2 separate regions of the Homo sapiens genome follow, and region 1 is linked to region 2. Evidence: fine-mapped expression QTL. Tissue or cell type: transverse colon. Region 2 holds a variant in brackets; the other region holds the start of a gene. All regions are shown on one strand. Distances are between the middles of the regions.

Region 1 (2,604 bases), 110 kb after region 2:
TGGATTACAAACATTGATCAAGAGGCTCTGAGTACCCTCATTTTTCCTATTTTTATATCTTTTATGATGAAATGACTTAAAGCAATACTCTCCCCTCTTGAAAACTAATAAAGTGAACATGCTTATTTATCTTACTTATTCTTTATACAAATATATTCTCTTCTGCATTCAGAAATTAATATTTAGAACACTTCAGGCATAAAAGGAATCCAGATCTTTGATAATTGGTTAAACTCTCCGATTTAGGACAACAGCAACAAATATTTTCTGATTATATTGTTGCAAAAATAAAAGTATCCATGGTTTTGTTAAAGAACAAGAACAAAGTAACACATTTAATGAAAACAGGAGGAAGCCTGGAATCCACCGTGATAAAACTTAGTTGCAATATGAACGCTGCTAGAGGAAGGGCTGGCCAGAACACTTCCTCATCTTAAACCAAGCCAAAAATAAATGGGCGGCTCCAAGTCCCTTTGATTTTGTTAAATGTATATTTCCAGTGTAAACTGGCGTTGTTTAAGTTAACAAAGTTTTCCCAAAGGGCCGGTGGGAAAGAATGAGAGTCCTGCAAATGCAACCTGAGAAAATGTGTTCCTCGCACGGAAATGGAAGAGCTGTGTTGAGATACCAGGGACACACGCAGGGCATCTGCGCGAGGTGACATTAGGCTGCCCTTAATGAGTTTTCTGCTTCTGATAACAGGGTGTCACTTTTTTCTTTTCTTTTAACTGTAAAAGGATCCTGGGGTGAAAATGAGTGAATTGCCCCCACACTCCTAGATTCCTTCCGGGAGAAGAGGGCGGACGCAGGCTGGGGAGGCGGGATCGGGACCCGGAGGTCCCAGGAACGGGTGGCTGAGGTCAAGGCCGAAGACCTGGGCGCCCACTCCCAGTGCCGGGTGCCCGGGAGAGGAAGACTGGGCGGACCCCCGCGCTTCCGGATGAGGCGGACTTAGGTCAATGCGGGAAACATTGCATGTCACCTCTTCCCACTCGGAGAGGCCGGGTGTCTTCCTGAGAGCTGGCAGGAAAGCGGCCGAGGCGCAGAGGCGCCCGGAGCCAGCCGCCCTGGCCGCGTCCCCACCGGGCTGCGGTGGCTGCGGGGCGGCCCTTACCTGGTTCCTGCGGTACCAGTCGCCCGAGAGGGAGCCGTTGCCGGCGCCTGGTGCCCCGTACGTGAAATTCAGTGACAGCTCGTCCAGGGCGGCCGAGGCGGAGTCCCCGGGGCCCGCGGGCGCCACCGCTGCCATGAGGTCTCGCTCCCGGCGCTCGGGCTCCGGCTCGGGCTGCGGCCGCCTCCCCGCCCTGTTGCACCGCGAGGAGGCCGCGCCGCAGCCACTTCCTGCTCGGTGCCCGGGCGAGGCGGGCGCGCCGAGGCCACCTGGCTCCCGCCCCCGCGCGGCCGTAGGTGCTCCCAGCCTGGCCGGGCGCTGCCTCCTCTCCTCCTCCGGTGCGAGGTGTCCTCGGGGAGCCCGGCGGTCTGCGGCCTCCCGGGGCCGTCCAGCTCGCACCGCGCCCTCCTTCCGCTGGGCCAGTGTCTGCATCCTCGGGGCCGCACTGCCCAAGGGGGCAATCCCCGCGGCCGTCCGCAACGGGTCCCCGCGCCTGTCGGGGCCAGAATCAGATCATCTCCGTTGTAAACATTTGTCCAAGTCAATGGAAGAGGAGGAGACACTGACTAACCCAAAGCAGCTATCATCTCCCATCTCTACCTGGCAATTCCAGTCCTCTATCACATATGTAGTGTTTCTCACCGATATTTTAAAAATTGATTGCATATGAAAAAGTCATGAGTTCCCAGAAATATTGTAAGCAATATGAGAAAAAAAGATCCGAGCGATTGAATCTCAGTGCCAGTGCTTGATAGATCCTTAGTAAATATTCCTTGAATGAGGAATGTGGTAGCCATAGGACCCCAGTGTGCGATGACTGGATTGGGTTTGCTTCAGATGGGATCAGGTGGAGTTGCTGAAAAGTTGCCAGCTACTGTATATATGAATTTAGGATGAAAGATAAATGTTGTTATTAATCTTAAGAACTCTAACGAGATGTTCTGGTTTTACCTGTATTCAAATTCTAATGTGTGACCACAAATGATCTGTAGGGTATTTCTCACTTTAAAAAAACCATGATTCTATACTGTTGCCTGAAGGCTGATAGTTGCCTTCTTTTGTTTACACAATGCTGAGGTTTTTCTTAGATAATGTGCTTTGACTTCCATGAGTTCATGAAAGAGAGACCTTCAAGAAAAGAGAATTGCTGCCTAGAAGGGAGCAGGGACAGTTTTCAGTGTTTCTTAGGGGAAATGTGCAAATGAGAGAAAAGAGTGAGAAAAAGTCATTTCACATACAGAAAAAACAAGACATGTCGTCTCAGAAATTGTGTAGTTTCTTGCTTAAGCACTCGAGATGTTCAGTGAACAGCTAACAATTGTAGGTAACTATTCCCAATTTTAAGAGGCTGATTTACTTCAAATAAATATCTGAAGGAAAAAGGTCTCTATTTGTTATATTACATTTTATTTTATTTTTTGAGACAGGGTCTTGCTCTGTTGCCCAGGCTGGAGTGCAGTGGTGTGATCTTGACTCACTTTAGCCTCATATTC
Region 2 (2,757 bases):
CCCACCTCAGCCTCCTAAGCAGCTGGGACCACAGGCACACATGTGCCACCATACCTGGCTAATTAATTTTTTTTTTTTTTTTTTTTGCACAAACGGGGTCTCCCCGTGTTGCCCAGGCTGGTCTGGAACTCCTTGGCTCAAGTGATCCTCCTACCTTGGCCTCCCAAAGTGCTGGGATTACAGGCATGAGCCACTGTGCCTGGCCAGGGCCCCTCTCTCCACAGTCCTTTTATATTTGTGTCACCTACTCTTTCTCCTACATCTTCCTTCTGAGGCCCAGCAGGCCGGACATGATTGGCTCTACTTTGTGAGAGAACAGGGCCGTGGAAAGCAGAGAAACACCCTGCAACCTTGTCTCCCTCTAAAAAGGGCTAGAAAAAGGAGACTTGGGAGTTAACCCAACAGACCCCCAAACTAAACTTCTGTGGAACACAAGGAAGAGAGTTAGAAACACAGAAGAAGAAAGCAAATCGTCACTTGCGGTGTTCTTTGGAGAGGGGCTTTCTGTGCAGACGTCCAGTGAAGCCCCCAGGCCGTGGGAAGCCCGCAGAGCAGAGTAAACAGGAAACGCCGGGAAGCTATTTTTATTTGGTGCCGTCTTTACTTTCCCCTGTTTCAGTGGAAAATGAGTCTGAATTCCACAAAACTCCTTAGTGAACAACAAATATAACTGGAGGCAGTGCCAAGACTGTCATTCCTCAGCAGTGGTTTGGACACGTTTCTTTTCTGCGGACATCTTGGAAGGCTCAGGCCCATGCTGGGCAGGAAACAGGTGGTTTGCTTTAGAGAAGGCCCGTGGAAAGGCCAGCAAGGCAAGCCCTGTGCCCCGGGTGACAGATTTCTGTCCTCCCCTGCAGAATCCTGTTTTCCTGTTAGCGACTGAGAAGCAGGGTGGGCCCTGTCATGTTCCGGACAGCAGTGTCCCAGGTTGCCACCCCGAGACCCCCAAGCCAAAGGAGAAAGGTGGCCATTGCGTACCAGGTTCCGTGGGGGTGCCCACCCTGTTCCAAGGCACAGCAGCGGAGCCACAACCTGGTGCAGGAGTTCCTAGCTTGGGGGTGGTGAGAGCCCAGGGGATGGGGCTGCGCTACTTGGAGGCGCCTCTTCTCCCGCGACCCGGTTCATTTCTCTGGTTTTGCCCTAAGAGCCACCTGCTCAGATTTGCATTCCTAGGTGGACAGAGAGTCAAGGAAGGAGGTGTTTAAAGGGCTCTTTTGCTGTTGTGCTCCCCATTTTTATCCTGTCTGTGGCTGAGGGAGTTGACCTTTCTCTCCACACTGAAAAGGGTTCCCAGTATGTCCCCTGCTCCCTCAATGTCTTTTTATGCATCATCGC[A/G]CCCCACTCCCAACACACACACACACACACACACACACACACACACACACACACACACACACACAAATACTCACTCAGCAGATGCCTCAGCCGTCATCCAGTGACCATGCATTGAGAGTACTCTACATACCTTTAAAAAATAAGGGTATACCGCTCATTAAGATTAGGCCTGGGATCCACCAGGGACTCCTGATCATTTTCTTGGGCCCACTTTCTTCCATCTTCTATCTGAAGGTTGTCCCCTGCCACTATGGACTCTCACTGAACAGTCCTGCACCATAGTGTGAATACTGGAAATGATGGTTTTCATGAAGTATTTCTCAAATGAACTCATCCCTTCCCTGTCTGGTGCCAACAGCCTGATCTATCTATTGTCTTCTGGAAACCCAGTGACTCCCATGGAACTCAGGCCCTTTGGTGGCTCGGAAGAGTCTCTCCAGCCAGCTGGAGGGAGTTGGCTGTTACTGTAAGTGTGCCATGAACTTTATACACCTGCAACAGGTCCTGGGCTTTGCTCTCCTGGTCACCTCTCTCAGAGTCTTTGTTTTCCTTGCAGTATTTTCTTACTTCCCCTGTCTCTGCCAACAGATTTGGCTCTTAGCTCATTTACTCTCATGATTCACTCTTCCTTGTATACTATTAACCTTGGCTTGCCAAGGCCCTCTGTGGTCCCCTTGTACCTTTATATCTCTCTGGGAAGCCTTCCAGTATCGGCTCCCACTCCTACCTCCTTGACTGTCTCCATGCCTCTCACCCCAAGTTCTGGAGAGTGAGATTTTGGATGGCCCAGCCCATTCTTCTCTGGAGACAGCTGTTTTGCTCGAGGCCATCTCAGAGGTCACTGTTCAGCTCATAGCCTCGTTATGCTTGATCATTTCTGGTAGGATGTGATGAGCCACAAATGCAAAAGTAGAGTTCAGTCATTATTTCCTGAATATCTTTTATGCCATCTTATACTGAGAGTGACTGCCTAAGGAAGATGTGGAGTAACGTCCTTAAATTTTTTTTTTCAGACGGAGTCTCACTCTGTCACCCAGGCTGGAGTGCAGTGGTACCAGCTCAGCTCACTGCAAGCTCTGCTTCCCAAGTTCACGCCACTCTCCTGCCTCAGCCTCCCGAGTAGCTGGAACTACAGGCGCCCACCACCACGCCCGGCTTATGTCTTGTATTTTTAGTAGAGACGGGGTTTCACTGTGTTAGCCAGGATGGTCTCGATCTCCTGACCTCGTGATGCACACGCCTCGGCCTCCCAAAATGCTGGGATTACAGGCGTGAGCCACCGCGCCCAGCCCTTAAATTCTGATAGGTGAGTTTTATTGTTGTTGTTTTTGAGTGTTATTTGCCAGTGTGCATGGATAGGTGAGTTTTTGGAAAGATACTGATTATGTTCGTTAAGTTCAGTCTGCATCCCTGGAAATGAAG

Evidence for each region. PIP is the estimated chance that this variant, and not a neighbour inherited with it, causes the effect.
Region 1: NIPAL2 starts here. The variant in region 2 is fine-mapped to the expression of NIPAL2 in transverse colon (GTEx, PIP 0.96).

The regions. Positions count from the first base shown.
Region 1 is chr8:98,292,889-98,295,492 of GRCh38, forward strand. It overlaps NIPAL2 (NIPA like domain containing 2), which reads right to left and starts at 1,347. Exons shown (of 11, transcript NM_001321635.2): 1 at 1,115-1,347. The coding sequence starts at 1,249. The region is part of intron 5 of LOC105375659 (a long non-coding RNA gene); the gene reads left to right. RefSeq lists a silencer at 867-1,586.
Region 2 is chr8:98,183,700-98,186,456 of GRCh38, forward strand. All of the region lies in intron 2 of NIPAL2-AS1 (NIPAL2 antisense RNA 1), which reads left to right. Among named protein-coding and RNA genes, the nearest start is that of NIPAL2-AS1, 8.6 kb to the left of the region's middle. The variant A/G (reference allele first, on the strand shown) is at 1,336.